Regions from separate parts of the Homo sapiens genome. Here region 2 is linked to region 1. Evidence: fine-mapped expression QTL. A gene starts in region 1. The other region holds a variant in brackets. All regions are shown on one strand. Distances are between the middles of the regions. Region 1 holds the start of ACSL1 (acyl-CoA synthetase long chain family member 1). Region 2 holds the start of MIR3945HG (MIR3945 host gene).

Region 1 (8,935 bases):
GAAAGTGCCCATTTCTATAGCAGCCAAAGCTGTGCTAATGGATAGAGCCTACATTTATCAGAAGTCCCCTCCAGAATGAGGAAATGGTCTACAGGCAGGCCCCGTTTCCTCCTCTGATGCCCTAACTTCTTTCCATTTCTCTTTCCAAACCATGAAATCCCTATTTCAACTGCTTTTGACTAGAATACATGAACCCAAAAGTCCATTAAACCTATTCATTAGTAAAAACACTTTTCAAATTATTGTTAATTTCAAGAGTTTTAAAGCAGAACATTTTTTATTTTTTAAAGACGTATTTAAACATATAACAAAGGTTGGTAAACTGTTCTGAAAAATATCCAACAAATGGGGAGAAGTAACTAAATTATGGCCCATACAGCAAATAATGCAGTCATCTTCAGAACTTATTTTTTGAAGAATATGTAACAACGTGTAAAAAAGCCCACAATATAACTTAGGTGATAAAGTTAAATTGTCAAAATTGTAATCTTTAATTAACAATGTATGCTTAAAATTTGTTTATTGTATAGGGAAAAAAGACTGGAAGGAAATATAACAAAATGTTAATAGTATTTAATCTCTGGAAGAGCTTCATTTTTCCTATTTCCCAAATTTTCTCCAGTAAGTATGTATGACTCTTAAAATATGAAAAACAAATACAGCTTTTCTGTGGCAAGTGGTTTTTAGATATTAGACAGCTTTCAGAATTTTATTTAAACTTGAAGACCAGCAAATAATTCATAAAGAGAATCAGCCCAGGCACCTATATGGAACCACCAGTTTTGAGATTTTATTTTATTGTTTTTACTTTTTTTTTTCTAGAGATGGGGTCTTGCTCTGTTGCCCAGGCTGGTCTTGAACTCCTGGCCTCAAGCAACAAGCTATTTGCCTCCAGATGATCACATCCTTCTAAGGCAGGCAGCACAGGGGAGCAGGGCCCTTACTCACCTCCACTTAAGTTTTTGTCCAAGGGTGACACCCTCCAAGCCAGCCACACTTCAAGGAGTCTCCAATATTTCACCCGCCCCTCTTGATTCCTCAAAGGTCATAAGTGAATCAATACTGTGTTGTTTCTAACACAGTCAAGAACATGAAAGTGGGCTGGGTGCAGTGGCTCACGCCTGTAATCCTAGCACTTTGGGGAGGCCAAGGAGGGCAAATCGCTTGAGCCCAGGAGTTCGAGACAACTGGGCAATATGGCAAAACCGCTTCACTACGAAAAAAATACAAAAATTAGCTGGGCATAGTGATGTGCGCCTGTAGTCTAAGCTACTGGAGAGGCTGAAGTGGGAGGATCAACTGAGCCCAGGGAGGTGGAGAGGCTGCAACGAGCCATGATCATGCCTGTACTCCAACCTGGGCGACAGAGTGAGACCTTATCTGGGAAAAAAGAAAAAAAAAAGAAAGTGAAAATGTCATGATGTAGAAAATGAACATAACTCAGATTATGTGATAGTTTTCTCTTCTTGCCATTATATACAACCCAAGGCTTGCCACAAACTGAAATTTCTTATGCATTGACATTCAGCATTTGATGTAAAATGACAATCTTAGAGTCGCTGCCACAAACCCTGGTAAAACTGCCCCTGCCTTCTCCAGTTCACTAAGTTCAGCTACTCCTTCAGGGCTTGTGCTCCTTTAAAACTTTTCAGAAGCCCCTTGAAGTACCAACATGTTGAAACTCAAACTCAACTGCCTGCAGCTTCAGATCAGCTCTGGCCACTGAGAATTCTTCTCCAGGCCCCAGTGTCAAAGGCACTTTTGACCATCATGTGTTTGTCTGACTACCAAGTTGGACTGCCAACCTTCACTAAAAACTCCGGCACCTTTATCTACCTCCTGTCAGATCACCGCCTGTCAGAGAGGGAGGCCTAAAAAGGCTTCAGGATATCAACAGCTTTGAGCTGCCTTAGAGGAACTTCTTTTCTATTTTGTAGTACAGGAGCCTCATGCACTGCATCATCCAAACAAGACTCTCCACAAAACATTACTAATGGATTCTAATTGAACAGAGTTTGGTTACAAGAGACAGTAAACACAAATGGGCACCTGTTTTAAATGGCAAACTTACACAATAAATTCAATTGATCTTAAAAACTAAACATTCCTCTAAGGTTACTGACTATAAATATCTAGAAATTACTACTCCTATAGTCTTGCTATTTCCAGACAAGTGAAACTGGAAGGGAGAGAGGAGAAATACCCAGTTATAATGACAAGACAACCTTATCTTTTCTCAAAAGCCTCCCCAAACACACAACCATTTTCCACAAAACAGTTACATCAAAAAAGATGTAGCAAGACCTAGACATTAAGCATGCTAGAAAGTAGGGACAGTTTTACCAGTGTTTGTGGCAGCAACTCTGAGATAGTCATTTTACATCAAATGCTAAATGTCAATGCATAAGAAATTTCAGTTTGTGGTAAGCCCTGGGTTATATATAATGGCAACAAGAGAAAACTATCACATAATCTGAATTACGTTCATTTTTCTGCATACACCATGCATGCTGGTACACTTTCAGTTAGCCTAAACTTCACCCAAAAGTAGAGGTGGCTATGAAAACTCTACCTGCATGGTATAAATAGATACCTAACCCTACATGCATGGGTCACTTGTATCTACCTCCTAAATACCAAAAACTTAGAAGCCCAGATTTCTTTTCAGTCAGGCTGCCTGCGATAACAATAAAAATACTGCCAAAATAGGAACAACAGAGACAGGAAGGAAATATGCCAAAATGCTTATAATTGTGGGGAAGGGTAATTTTTTGTTTTGTTTTGTTTTTTACAGAGTCCTGCTCTGTTGCCCAGTCTGGAGTGCAGTGGCGGGATCTCAGCTCATCACAACTTCTGCCTCCTGAGTTCAAGCGATTCTCCTGGCTCAGCCTCTCGAGTAGCTGGGACTAGAGATGCATGCCACCACGCCTGGCTAATTATTTGTATTTTTAGTAGAGATAGGGTTTCTCCATGTTGGTCAGGCTGGTCTCGAACTCCTGACCTCAAATGATCTGCCCGCCTCGGTCTCCCAAAGTGCTGGGATTACAGTGAGCCACCACGCCTGTCTGGGTAATTTTTTTTTAAGTATTCTGTTTACAGTAAATTCAGAAAACAGAAGTCTTTAATATGTCTGTTTTAAAGGGGAGAGGTATAAGGTGTGCGGCTAACAAGTTTATTTTTCTAGTCGCAGAATTTGGACTCGTGAAAGATTTTAGTCTAATGCAGTTTGTTCACAAATATAAGGAGGGGGGCCTCAGACTAGGGAGGTGTTTTCCGAGTTGAGTCAGAACAAGAAAGTAAGTCTCCCAAGACCTGGTCCTTTTCCACTATATCACACTGCACTGTCTGGCTCCAATCTGATGGCGAGCAATGGTTCCTTAAAAAGCTCCATCTTCTCAAGCCTACCCAGCACAGACCTACAACTCAAACTTTAAGTTTTAGCCAGCCTAACCTTCCACGTCCACTTGAAAAAAGAAAAAAAAGAAAGAAACAATCAACCGGAAGCCTTTGATTTTTTTGCTAGCAAGAAGCCAATAATTGTTTTCTTTGGGACAATCACAGGTTAAGTTGTGAAATGGGTGGCAGAAACTGCAAGATTTAACCAGTTTCTCTCAACGCTAATCAAAGGTCAAGAAAATAAAAGACAGGGCAGTGAGAGTCGCGGGACTTTAGACACTCCTGCACCAAGAAGCTTAAAAGTCTTAGCCAGGGCACTAGAGAACGCTTTTAGAATGGTCACTCTTAATTATGCTCCATAACCTTGAAATTGGACTGAGTGGGGAAGGGGTTTCCACACTCTCACAACGCACCGACTGGGGGAACGCCTGTCCCCAGACTCGAATCCACGTGTCCATTCAAGTCATCTACCGCCACTCTCCGTCTACGCTGCCAGGTGACAGACATCATCTTTGCTTCTCAATTTCAAAAAATGCCAGCACTCCTTAGATCAATGACTCCACGGCCAAGTGCAAGGGCCACGGGCACTCCTCTGGAGTCACCGAGAGAATGTCTGCCTCTGGCAGCGGCCTCTGAGCTGCCTGTGGGCCTCGTGCCGCCGCGCTGCGTGGGGCCGGCATCTCAGCGGGCGCGAGTGCAGTCTCGCCCCACGCGCGGTCCGAACGCCCGCGAGCCCGGCCTCTGGGCAGGCGGGGGCCGCGGACGAGGGCAACGTCAGCGGCCCAGCTGGGCCACCTCCTCCCAGCCGAAGCGCGGCCTCCGGCTGCTTCGCCGGGCCGGTCCCCGCCGCCGCACACACAAGGGTCGGTCCCGCGCGCATCCCCGGCCGCGCACCAGCCCCGCGCCCGCGCCGCCCGCGACTCAGACACAGGAAGCTGCGGCAGCACGGGCACCCCGGAGGCCTCCGGCTGCCGAGGGAAGCGGGGCCGCGGGCAGGAGGCCGGAAAGGCGGCGCGGCCCCACGAGCCTGGGGTGGCTCACGCGCCTCCGCGGCGGCCGCTGCTCCGGGCTCGGCCCTGAAGGGCAACGTCAGCCGGCGCCTCGGCCGGGGCCCGGGCACCGCCGCGGGAGCAGGCGCGGCTCCGCACGGCGGGCGCACTCACCTCCTCCGTGGACCGGCCGCTCCGCCGCCGGCTGTCACTGCAGCCCACTCCCTGCCCCGCGCCGGCTCTGGATGCTATTTAAGGCGCCGCTGGCGCCGCCGCCTCGGCCCGCTGGTTGCGCCCCCGCCACCGCCGCGGCTGAGCCAGGATGCTGCTGGTGCGCTCGCCGCGCCGGCCCCGCCCTCCCGCGGCCCCGCCCCGCCCGCAGGCCCCGCCCCCGGCAGGCCCCGCCCCGCCGAGCGCCCGGCCGCCCTCCTGTCTGGGCGCGCGTGGCTGGCGGGTGGCCGGCGGTCGAGAGGCTGCGGCGGGCGAACGCCGCTGGAGTCGCCCAGACTGCCTCGGATTTCATAATGAATCTGAGGAAGGACAAAGGGTACATTGGACCGCCTCAGCTCAGAGGCCCCGCGGACCCTGGGCCCCGCGATGCCCGAGGGGCGGGCGGCGCCCTCCGGATCCTGCACCCTCAGCCCGTGCCCCGCTGGCCTCCTGGCAGGCCGGGCAGAATTCTGCTGCGAGGGCCCTGGAGGCAAGGGCCTTCCTCTCCGTTTTTCCTTGACACTGACGGGCGCGGCCCCACAGGGTTTCCCCCACGCTCCCTGGCCGGAAGACCTTTTCTGTCTGGTGTCTGCAGAGCCTGACGTGGGCAGCGCCCGCAGCTCGCGCCGGTGCAGGGGAGCTGAGGGCCGACTGCGCGCTGCACCACGGCGGCCACCTGCTGTGCGGTTCTGAGGGCTTCCGCGGTTCTGAGGGCTTCCGCGTCCCTGCCATGCCCATCTTGGGGCTTCAGAAGCCAACACGATGGTTTTCGGGCTCACATCCCAAAGGCTGCTCTTCCTTTTAGCACCTGGGACCTACCAGGAACCTCAACCTCTAACAACATTGGTCCCCGTTACCGTGGAGTTTGCGCCCAGCGTTCGCTGGAGGGCCGTTTGAAGAATGATTGTTGTCGTAAAGGCCTTTGATAATAATAGATACTGTTTACCCAGTGCTTGATGCCAGGCATTGCTACAAACACTGCGTACACATTATTCTATTTAATCTTCATAACCCAGTGAGGTAGGTACTGTCATTACTGTCCTTTCACAGAAGAGGAAGCTGGGGCACAGAGGTTAAATGCTAGTGAGAGCAGTACCACACTTGGCACTCAGGCTGCCCCCAGAGTGTGGGCACAACCAACGCAGGGCTATGCCTGGGCTGCAGGCAGGGGAAACTGACCGTGGTTCGCTCCAGGCCTCAGCCACACTGCAGTTCACTCCCACAAATAACTGAAGGACTTTCCCTGGGTGTCTCCCACAGTGTGCTGGGCGCAGTGGTGCAGTGGGGTGAGGACAACGCACACACCAGCAACCTCTCTAGCAGCTCAGTCCTTTTAGATCTCCATCTTCCAGATCTAGAAAAAATGGACTCCACGTTCGTTTTCACTGGTTCCCGCTTGGCTAATCCCTGGTTTTTCTGTCCAGATCTCGCCTCCCCATCCGTGATTTTGTCATCTTTGCCTCTCCTTTTTCCTCTTCTCCAACCGGTCCCTCAGCCCCAGAACCTCTGCAGGCACCTCCCAAGTTCTGTGGTCTATTGTTTTCAAGGGCTGCTGGAACGAAGTACCACACACTAAGTGGCTTCAACAACCGAAATGTATGGTCTGTCCTGGTTCTGGAGACTAGAAGTACAAAATCACGGCGTGGGAGGGCTGGCTGCTTCCGAGGCCCATGAAAGAGCATGTGTGCCCGGCCACTCTGACTTGCAGATGCCCATCTTCTCCCTATGTCTCCTCACACCATCTTCCCTGTGGTGTGTGTGTGCAAATCCCTTCTTTCTATAAGGACACCAGTCATACTGGACTAGGGCCCACCCGAATTGCCTCATTTTAACTTGATGACCTCTGTAATCATGAGGTAATGTCCAAGTAAGGTCCCATTCTAAGATACCTGAATGCCCAGGCACGGTGGTTCATGCCTGTAATCCCAGCACTTTGGGAGGCCGAGGCAGGCAGATCAACTGAGGTCAGGAGTTCAAGACCAGCCTGGCCAACATGGTGAAACCCTGTCTCTACTAAAAATAAAAAAATTAGCGGGGCATGGTGGTGCGTACCTGTAGTCCCAGCTACTCGGGAGGCTGAGGCAGAAGAATTGTTTGAACCCAGGGAGGTGGAGGTTGCAATGAGCCAAGATCACGCCACTGCATTCCAGCCTGGGAGACAGAGCAAGACTCTGTCTCAAAACAACAACAACAACAACAACAAACCCCTGAACATATGAACTTGGGGAATGTGGGGGTGACAATTCAACCCGTAACATGTGGATGGTCGTCACTGGCTGTCTCACCTTACGTCTTCTCCTCAAGACACTTTTCTTTTAAACTGGGTGCCTCTCCCTGGGCTCTAGCCCTTAATGAGGTGATTTCCAACTCAAGGCTGGGAAAGGCACACAACCCAGTATCAGACCTGAGTTCACACTCCTTCTGGCAGGAACTTCTAGGTGACATTGGGAAGCAACTTCATTCCTTAGAACCTAGATTTCTCCTCAGGCTATAAGGGGGCTTGGCTAAATAATCTCTTAGGTCTCTTTCAGCACACACACTTAAAAAAAAACAAAAAAGTTTTTATCTAATCACTCCAAAAAGTTTTACAATGTATGGGGTTGTCTTGTGGACTTGAGATAGAGACTTTGATGGGAGGCAGTATTGCATAGTGGTTAAGAACACAGGCTTTGGGGTGGGTGAATCCACATCAAGCCTCATTGCATCCTCCTTAAATCAGGAATAATACCTACCTCAGACAGGTGTCATAGGATTGACAGCCACGCCCTTGGCGTTCTCATTAAATGAAGATTCCAGACTCTATAGTTGGGAGTTTGTGACTTAGGTAAGAAACCAGTCTCTTTTTTTGAGACGGAGTCTCACTCTGTTGCCCAGGCTGGGGTGCAGTGGTGCGATCTCGGCTCACTGCAATCTCTACCTCCTGGGTTCATGCCATTTTCCTGCCTCAGCCTCCCAAGTAGCTGGGACCACAGGCACCCACCACCACACCCGGCTAGTTTTTTGTATTTTTAGTAGAGATGGGGTTTCATTGTGTTAGCCAGGATGGTCTCGATCTCCTGACTTCGTGATCCACCCGCCTTGGCCTCCCAAAGTGCTGGGATTACAGGCGTGAGCCACCGCGCCCGGCCTTTTTTTTTTTTTTTTTTTTAAATGAAGGACATGATTGTTTTTAAAAATTGGGCCAGGTGCGGTGGCTCACACCTGTAATCCCAGCACTTTGGGAGGCAAATGCAGGAGGATTGCTTGAGTCCGGGAATTCAAGACCAGCCTGAGCAACATAGTGAGACCCTCCGTCTCTAAGAAAAAGTTTTTAAAAATTGTGTCACAGTGATCACAATGACCACTATTCACATCATAATGGCTTTTCTTTTGGCTATTAACACTGCAGTGTTTTTGTATACTGAAATGTGTCTGTGGGACCAACAGCATTAAAGAATAAAGATCCTAGATGAAAATAAACACTAATAATCCTGGTGTCCTCTCCAATAGAATTAATCTAAACTCCTTATGAATCAGTAGCATTATAATGTTATGTAGTTATGAGGAATAGAATTCTTTTAGAAGCAGGCAGCATGAACTTATACTTCCTTGTACTTACTTCTTTAAGAAACCAGTCTTAACCCTCCTTTCTACTGTCTTTTTTTTCAAGCATCTCTCTAGCCAAGGGAATAAGAGCCAATTGGATATTGTAGTGGTGCAAATTTCCTAGCGGAAATTTGAGTCTTTTTTCGGTCACTCCTGCCCTTGTTACATTTTGGCCTGATTAAAATGTTGTGGCTAATTCTGGCTAAATCCACATTGACATCTGCCTAACACCGATTGATCAATCTCCTGGAGAAGCTAAAGAGAACTGGGCCGGGTGCAGTGGCACATGCCTGTAATCCCAGCATGTTGGGAGGCCAAGGTCGGCGGATCACTTCAGCCCAGGAGTTTGAGACCAGTGTGAGCAACATGGCGAGATCCTGTCTCTACAAAAAATACAAAACTTAGCCCAGCATGGTGGTGTGCACCTGTAGCCTATAGTCCCAGCTACATGGGAGGCTGAGGTGGGAGGATCTCTTGAACCCAGGAGGTCGAGACTGCAGTGAACCGTGATTGCACCATTGCACTTTGGCATGGGCAACAGAGCAAGACCACATCAAAAAAAAAAAAGAAAGAAAGAAAAGAAAAAAAGAATCGAAGTCTTTCTGGGTCAAGCTGATTAGCAGGTTTACAGTGGCCTTGTCTCAAAAGTTCCCACTTGTGATTAGGAACTACAAAGCTGTGATTATTATTAATCTTCTGCACCTATTGCTTTTGAGCATGGCTATCTGAAGTATAGCCACATCAATTAATAATGG
Region 2 (8,935 bases), 28 kb after region 1:
TTTTTAATGTTTCACATATTCAAAGAACAAACTTAAAATGAATAAGGTCCGGCAAGGTTACAGGATTAAGAGCAATGTACAAATATTAATTGTATTGTATACAGTAGCAATGAGCAAACCAAAAATGAAATTAAGAAAGTAATTTCACTTAAGATAAAAATTCTAAAATACTTAGAAGTAAATTTAACAAAGATGTACAAAACTTATACTGTGAAAACTACAAAGCTTTGTTGAAATAAATCAAAGAAGAAACCAAATAAATGTAAAAACAGTCTATGTTCATGGATTGGAAGATTTAATATTCTCAAGATGTCAGTGTTAACATAACAAGATGTGTGTTATACTTTAGTTTTTAAAAAATGGCCAAAAACGTGGTGGGATAGTTGAATATGATTCATCCTTCCCAGACCCACATGACCTGAACACTGTGATGCGTTATAATGGCAGGGAGAGGAATTTTGGATTCAACCTGATCTGAATTGGAACCCTGGCTTTATTATTTACTAATGTATGTCTTTCCTCATTTTTTCTTGATGTTGCTGGTTCTGATTTTCTTCATTTGCTCAATAAGGATGATAAATAGCTACTCCTCAGGGTTGCTGTGGGGATCAGATATGATACGAGTAAAGGGCTGGCACTACTGGTTTCCTAAACCCAACTCCCTTCCATCTTGCCCATGTCCCATGCAGGTATTGGAAAACCCAAGCATTGACTCTCCAGACCAGCCTCGCACCTAAGAACGCCGTGGGATGCAGTTTCAGACAGTGAGAAATCTGCTGGGGATGCCTGGGAAAGGGACATACCTGGCAGGTGCCGCTCCATGGCCTTCTTGCTGCCTTGAATTGGGACATGAGCCTGAGTCGCAGCAGCCGTCTTGTGACTGAGAGGTGGCAAGCAGGAGGAAGAGGCTAAGAGAATAGAGACACTGTTGAGCTGCTGAAGCACAGCAAGCGGCCACTTCTCTATGCTTCTTGCTATTTGACTGTTAAGCTAGTGCAAGTTACTTTTCTGGTCAGAATGAATTCATAACTGAAACATGCTTTAAAGTATGACTATTATTATTAAATGCAGCATAAGCTTTCCATAGCTGCTACACGATCACACCCACTGCTGTCTCAGACTGACCAGTGGCCGACTAAACATGACAGCAAGTACTGTTGCCAGCCTCTGCCTTCTTATACTTGTGGAGTTTGTTTAAATCTAAATTCAGGACTCACCCTGTTAAATTTTATCTCCTTAGCTTGTCCCCTTCTTTTCAGAGATTTGCAATTCAAATTAGTATTATAACCTCAATTGATATATGGCTGTGGACCAGTCAGGAATCATTGAATCATCCCCCACTTTGGAAAGCATAAGAGGCTGTAATTGCATTTTATATCAACCCTCTCCTATGCCCTCCCCGTCACGTGCATCAACATCTCTTTTCTCTCAGAAAGACCTCATCTTATTTGAGGTGATATTTGAGTACATAGTTCCTTTTAGGGTACTGGGGACCTTTTTGGTGGTAGGGTGGAGAGTGTGCACCACAGAGACTAGTCACCAAGAGTCCCTGCAGTTAAGTCTGCGTATCCTGTGCTGGTGAAGGGTGGATGGGCTTTATGCAAATCTCTGCTTGGCTGCAGAATCTCCCAGTGAGATGAGCAAGGGTGCTTTGCAGTCAGTGTTGAAACCCCAGAAGAGCAGGAAATGATGCTGTTCCTGCCCAAAGGCAGAATGAAATGCAAGGAAAGGAGAAAAACATTATGACATAAGTATTAAGAAAGATGCTGTTTACGGGAACTCTGAAAGACTGGAATTCAGAGCCGCTACCAATTAAGAAAGTTAATGATGACTTGCAGCAGGTTTGCAGAAAGTGAAAGGAAGGTGAGGCTATTTAATTGCCACCATAACAGAAGAACTTGTAGAAAATAGGAATGGGATCACAATCATTATTAACTCATAAAAAATTTATAGGGTGCCATTTCTAATACGACACTGTGCAGGGATACTGCAGTCTAGCGTTACCTCCAGTTTAGACAGGCTGAAATACATACAGTTTCTCATCTGTATGAGATAAGGTGATATAAAATGAAGCTGATCGGGCTAGTTTATTGGATAAAACCAACAACGAAGGGAAATAAGTAACTATTTATACAACATGGTAACTATCTACATTGTTCATTAGCAGACGATGTTTGTAACTGGAGATGAAATGCATTAAGCATGTTTGGGAAAGGAATAAATGGGATGTAACCATGGAAGTCCTATGCTTAACCAGGGTGGGGAGGGGGGCAGGGATATAGAGAACTTCAACTAGACAGGCCTGGTGGAGAAAGTGTGTGTCTAAGAATTACTTGCAAAGTGAGCTGTGTCAGGGAGCATCCTGGTGCATGCTCCAAGATATGTTGGATAACAGTTGAGTACAACTCATGATGGAATTACAAAACTCCAAGATACAGTTGGATAGTTGGGTAACAGTTGAGCATCACCATGATGGAAGAGATGAAGAGACTTTTTGAATGTGTTTGAGAGGAGTGAAATGAATCCTACAATGATAATAATAATAATTGCTATTATTTTTTCAGACACGTGTGAAACCAGAAAAAAATAAATTAGGTGAAAGAATCTTCATTCCTGGTGACACCTTAGAAGAAGAAACAGACAATCTTGGATGGATTTGTTAAAGATCAGAGGATCCATAATGTCATGCAAAATGGTGGGATTGGGGGCAAACAGATCAAGTTGATGAGTGGGGTTAGCAACAGTGAGACCTGAAAGAGAAAACAAGTTAACAGAAGCCAGACTAAGTGCAGGACTAACCTGCACCCTAAGAGGGTGCAGGCTCAGGAACCAGTCCATGAGGAGTTGCACCATAGTAAGGGGTAGAGATGAACTGAAGCTCGCTCATGATTACCAGCGGTATTGGCCTCTCCAAGAACTAAAAATAACCTCCTTCTTTGTCTTGCTGTTACTTCCAAGCCACAGCCGAGTTCTCTCTCTATACTTACACCTCAGATGAATGAGCAGTGCCTGTGGCTGTGGCCAGTGTCTTTTATTCCCACCTGGTTCCTCCCAGTCTGTGTTCCATGTTGTCACTGCCCCAACTGCACAAGCCTTTTCCTAGTCCTCAATCTTTTCTCCCCACAGCAGCCCTGGGCACAGTAGACCTCCCTAGCCTTTTGAGGAACCTCTTCTGTTACCTGACTGCTGTGGTCTACGTGACCATCTTACCTCTTCCTCTGCATTTTCCTTGTGTCTGTCACTGACTCTCTCCCGTGTCCCGCTCCCCAACTGTGGGTGCCCCAGATGTGTCAATCCTCATTCTCCGATCTTCTCTCTTTATACTAGATTCTAATTCACCTTTATTCATCTATACTCCCAGAGTCAAGTTTTGATTATGTATATATAACCAAATGGCATATAACTCTATCTATCTATCTATCTATCTATCTATCTATCTATGCCATCTCATTTCATGTCTTCACGAAATATCTGTTAGCTGTTTTTCTCCAGATTATCATCCTTCCTTAAGTGCTGTTGTGGTAGCAGTGGTGGTGGTAGTAGCAGTAGTAACAGCAACAACCTCTATCATATAGTAAATGCTAACTATATCTCAGGTGCTTTAGTAAAATCTCATTTAAGCCTTTCAATGTTATACATTGATATTGCTGTTGAACACATTTTATAGAGGAGGAAACAATCTCAGCAGGTTTAACGGTGGTTCCCAGTCACACAGCTAACACAGAACACGGCCTTGAACTCAGATTTTGTCTGACTAAAGTTTGTCATCCTATTTCTGTGCTAAAGCTTCTACAGCAGTCCCTGTTGCTTACCAGGTGAGGCCCAGCATCCTCACGGACCATCCCGGATCTCCGTAACGTAGCTCCACTGATCTGCTCCAGTGACTGCCTTCTGCTCCCAGAGTGGCACCTCCTTAACCACCCTCACCTTCCTACGCAGTGAATGAAGTGCAGACATGAATCCTGAGTCTGCCATTTAGTACTTCTCTAAAACTGACTTCTTGTATTTGTAAAATACCCGCCTC[A/G]CAATCTCAGGATTGCTGTGAGCATCGTATATAATGAGTGCAAAGGGCCCGGCATAGTGCAAGGGACATGATAGGTGCATAACGAATAGGACCCACTGAGGCTGTTACTCATATTTCTGCTCTTGTGCCTTGTTCGTGTTATTCTCTACATATGAAATGTTTGTACTTCCTATTGCTCTGGCCTGACAGTCCTTAAGGGCTAAATTCCATCTTTACTAAATGTTTCCTTGGCTCTAACACACATTGATCTCTCCCCTCCCCAATTCTGAATGCACTTTCTTTTTTCTTTTTTTTTTTTTTGAGACAGAGTCTCGCTCTGTCGCCCAGCCTGGAGTGCAGTGGCGCGATCTCGGCTCACTGCAAGCTCCGCCTCCCGGGTTCATGCCATTCTCCTGCCTCAGCCTCCCGAGTAGCTGGGACTACAGGCGCCCACCACCACGCCCAGCTAATTTTTTGCATTTTTAGTAGAGACGGGGTTTCACCGTGTTAGCCAGGATGGTCTCGATCTCCTGACCTCGTGATCTGCCCGCCTCGGCCTCCCAAAGTGCTGGGATTACAGGCGTGAGCCACCGTGCCCGGCCCTCTGAATGCACTTTCTATATACACCAGGTGGCTGGTGTTATCTACTGTCTTATTCTTGAATGGCTTTGGGTAAGCGAGCCTCATAAGTTACTGGTGAGCTTGCTTGTATTGCTTCTGTGCTCCTCTCAAAGCTACTGGCACACTGTACCAAAGTGATTTGTTCATTGATTGATGGAGAAATGTAAACATTGGGACAAATCAGAGAGAAAAAAGGGCAAATTGGACATTATCTTGTTCGATTTCAGTTGGCAGTCAATGGTTTGTGTTCAAATTATCCTACAGAGGCTTGAACCAGGAGGGGAGGTTCAGAAAACAGATGGTGGGAAAGAGAACAGATCTCTGTATTATGGAGCTTTGACTTTAAAATTATTTCTCTTAAAGAAGAGATAGACCCAAAAGGAAATGATCTGAGATAAATTTCCAGGGACCAGTAAGACAGAAGTACCACTAAATATGAAGAGGCAGTGGACTGGGAATAATGAGAGAAGACCCAGGCAATCATGCCTGTAAGTTACGATAAAGAAAACAGGAAGCACATTTCGACAGAAAAACCATACTTTACATTAAAGAAGTGAGATTGTGTCTGTTGCAAGAGTGAGAGGGAAAGCCCGCAACGACCTCAGGGACCCAGTGAATTAGCTCACGGGAAGCCCAGGGCCTCTTTTGCTAGCTGCTAATGAAGGGAATTAGATAACCATGTTATTTTGAAAGAAAACAGATTATGTTTATTGAATGATCTAAAAGAAGCGAAAAGGGCTAGGTAAAGATGCCATGTTTTGGATTCTGATGTTGGGTCACACCAGGGCGCCCATTCTTCTGTATTCACAAAATGCCCAAATAGGGAGAGGTCTTGCCAGGCGCGTGAACTCGCCACTGTGGCTGAGCAACAAAGGTACATTGAAAGGAAGCGTGTGTGTTTGTGGCTTTGAGCCCCTTTTCCTATTCTGCTGAAGATTAGGAAATTATAGGTTATACTGCTTGAAATGAAGACAGAGTAAATGGTAGGAGGGTTGTAAATCACCTGCGAAGCACCGTCTTCGACCATGCCATATAGCAAGGCTACCCAAAACACTCCAGTCTCTAATTTGTTCAACTTAAAGAATAAGAGGGATATGTCAGTCAGGACCTGCTAACTGCTGTATCAGACAACCCCAGATCCCTAACGACTTACCTCACAGTCATCAGGGGCTAGACAAGTGACCTTCCACACGATAATTCAGAGATACTGCTCCTTTCCTGTAGTTCTCCAGTCCTCAGCACAGGGTCTCAAGATCATCTAGCATCGACCAGTCAGCAAATGTCGGAAGAGGAAAGATAGCTTCCTTAGTCCCTAAGAGACAGCATCTCGTTTTCACTACATTCCACTGGTGAGAACTACTCATATGGCCACACCTAGACACAGCGGTGACTGGAAAGTTAATTTGATTGTGTTTCCAGGAAAAGGAGATAGGCTTGGTGAGTCAGTCTCTCTAGAGGAAAATATGGAACTGGGTTGGATTAAAAAAAATCCAGGCTGGGCGCGGTGGCTCATGCCTGTAATCCCAGCACTTTGGGAGGCCAAGGCGGGTGGATCACCAGAGGTCAGGAGTTCGAGACCAGCGTGGCCAACATGGTAAAACTCCGTCTCGATTAAAAATTAAAAAAAAAAAATTAGCCGGGTGTGGTGGTGGGCGCCTGTAATCCCAGCTACTCAGGAGACTGAGGCAGGAGAATAGCTTGAACCCGGGAGGCAGAGGTTGTAGTGAGCTGAGACTGCACCACTGCACTCCAGCCTGGGTGACAGAGTGAGACTCCGTCTCAAAAAAAAAAAAAAAAAAAAAAAATTCAGGTAATGATTTATATGTTTCTATCAAGCAATATGCCTATAAACATGGAATGATTGAATTTTCAGTTTCAAATACATGTTTTGGGTTGTGAAGACTCAAAAAGCTTGTGGGTCTCTTTGTTTTTGTCAAAGTATATGAATAAACGAGGATTGCAGAAGTTTACTTGTGGAATGAATGCATTAGTAAATTAATGAAGCTTTCTCCTGTACTGAAAGAAGAGTATAAGGTCATGACTCATGGTCATGAGGTAGGAAATAATTCTGCTCACCAAGAAACAAGGACATTTTAAATATCTAAAAAAGCAGAAATGAGAAAGGAAGCATGAAAAATAATCATTTAGCCAACAGTTACAGCACCTACTGACAGACAGAAAGTACAGGGCATTGACATAGTTTAAATCCAGTGACTTCCGTTTTTCCTAATAGAATCAGAGTGATAATGCATTTTAAAGGTTATTTTTATTATTTCATGTCTCCAAACCATTTTCAGAGGGAAATTATCATGGCTGTCACAACAGTAGCTTAATACACAAGGTTGATGGTATTTTACAAAAGTGTCACAAGTGGATTTTAAAGTTAAAAAAAAAAAGGGGGGCTGAGTGCAGTGGCTCATGTCTGTAATCCCAGCACTTTGGGAGGCTGAGTCGGGCGGATCACCCGAGGTCACGAGTTCGAGACCAGCCTGGACAACATGGTGAAACCCCGTCTCTACTAAAAATACAAAAATTATCCAGGTGTGGTGGTGCGCGCCTGTAATCCCAGCTACTCTGGAGGCTGAGGCAGGGGAATCACTTGAACCCTGGAGGCAGAGGTTGCAGTGAACTGAGATTGCACCACTATACTCCAGCCTGGGTGACAGGGGGAGACTCCATCTCAAAAATAAAAAATAATAAATAAGGTTAAAAAAAAGATCAGTATGATATAGCTTATATGAATAGAAAAGATGATTCTCGAACAATAGCATGAGGCATATGAGTTGAAAATAAAGCCTAGAGGTCTTCACCTACAGCAGAGAAAATTTTCACTCTCCCCCACCCCACAGAAGACAGACAGACCTACCCCAAAATTAAAATGACATTAGCCCCATAAGCATGTTTCCCTCCTCAGGTAACAAAGAAGATACCTCAGTTCTAAATCCACACAGTTTTAAAGATGTCATATATTTAATGCTCTTTTTTTTTTCTTTTTTTTTTGAGATGGAGTCTTGCTCTGTCACCCAGGCTGGAGTGCAGTGGCACGATCTTGTCTCACTGCAACCTCTGCCTCCCGGGTTCAAGCAATTCTCTGCCTCAGCCTCCCGAGTAGCTGGGATTACAGGTGCCCGCCACCACATCCAGCTAATTTTTGAATTTTTAGTAGAGACGGGGTTTCACCATCTTGGCCAGTCTGGTCTTGAACTCCTGACCTCGTGATTCACCTGCCTTGGCCTCCCAAAGTGCTGGGATTACAAGCGTGAGCCACCATGCCCGGCCTAATGCTCATTCTAACTAGAAGGAAGTAAAGCCTCAGAACAGTAAAATGATTTGCCACATGTCACAGTTGCAATAAACAGTTCAAGTCCACTCCATAAAGAGATACTAGCAATCCTACGGTTTGTCGAAAGCCAGGCTTCTCGGATAACAAAATATTCTAGGTTCTTTGACAAAATGGGTGATGGGAAGTAAGGAGGAGGGCCTAGTTTCTGAAGCTGCAGGTCATGTAAGGAGCTTGCCCTCAGGCTGGCAAGGCCTAGGAATGGGGGGTGCAGGCGGCCTTCAAGTGCCTGGGGGCCAAGAGGAAGTGCTGCTGTCCCCTGAAATCTTTTTATGGGAGGAACTGACACTGTGGGTCTGTTCAAGTCCCCAAAATGGGGACAGGCTGGGGGCTGAGGACACAGACTCAAGGCCCCTCATTGGCAGTCATGGCCAGGCCAAGGAGCCCAGCTCAGGGCTGCTGGCTTATTCTCAAGCCCCCCAGGGATGTGAAGAGGGGTGCAGAGACTCACGTTTTGCACCCACGGAGTCCAGGACTGGGGTGTTAGAAGTGGGGTAGATTTAGTGGACACAGCAGATCAAGTGCATGTGAAGAGCGCCGCAGCAGCTCTGCATCTCCCAAAGGTCCCAGCTGGTCCTCTGAAGACCCGGGATCACAACTCCACATCGTCACCTCGGGGTCCCAAAGGTCCCAGCTGGTCCTCTGAAGACCCGGGATCACAACTCCACATCGTCACCTCGGGGTCCCAAAGGTCCCAGCTGGTCCTCTGAAGACCCGGGATCACAACTCCACATCGTCACCTCGGGGTCCCAAAGGTCCCAGCTGGTCCTCTGAAGACCCGGGATCACAACTCCACATCGTCACCTCGGGGTCCCAAAGGTCCCAGCTGATCCTCTGAAGACCCGGGATCACAACTCCACATCGTCACCTCGGGGTCCCAAAGGTCCCAGCTGGTCCTCTGAAGACCCGGGATCACAACTCCACATCGTCACCTCGGGGTCCCAAAGGTCCCAGCTGGTCCTCTGAAGACC

The links. PIP is the estimated chance that this variant, and not a neighbour inherited with it, causes the effect.
Region 2: its variant is fine-mapped to the expression of ACSL1 in whole blood (TOPMed, PIP above 0.99).

The regions. Positions count from the first base shown.
Region 1 is chr4:184,821,357-184,830,291 of GRCh38, forward strand. It overlaps ACSL1 (acyl-CoA synthetase long chain family member 1), which reads right to left and starts at 4,612. Exons shown (of 21, transcript NM_001995.5): 1 at 4,560-4,612. LOC105377587 (a long non-coding RNA gene) reads left to right here and starts at 4,815. Exons shown (of 3, transcript XR_939564.4): 1 at 4,815-5,615. RefSeq lists enhancers at 3,861-3,930, 5,181-5,684, 5,291-5,340, 5,511-5,790 and a silencer at 4,101-5,060.
Region 2 is chr4:184,849,692-184,858,626 of GRCh38, forward strand. It overlaps MIR3945HG (MIR3945 host gene), which reads right to left and starts at 5,961. Exons shown (of 3, transcript NR_132989.1): 1 at 5,778-5,961; 2 at 804-908. MIR3945 (microRNA 3945) reads right to left here and starts at 1,419; the gene lies at 1,322-1,419. RefSeq lists an enhancer at 869-938. The variant A/G (reference allele first, on the strand shown) is at 4,025.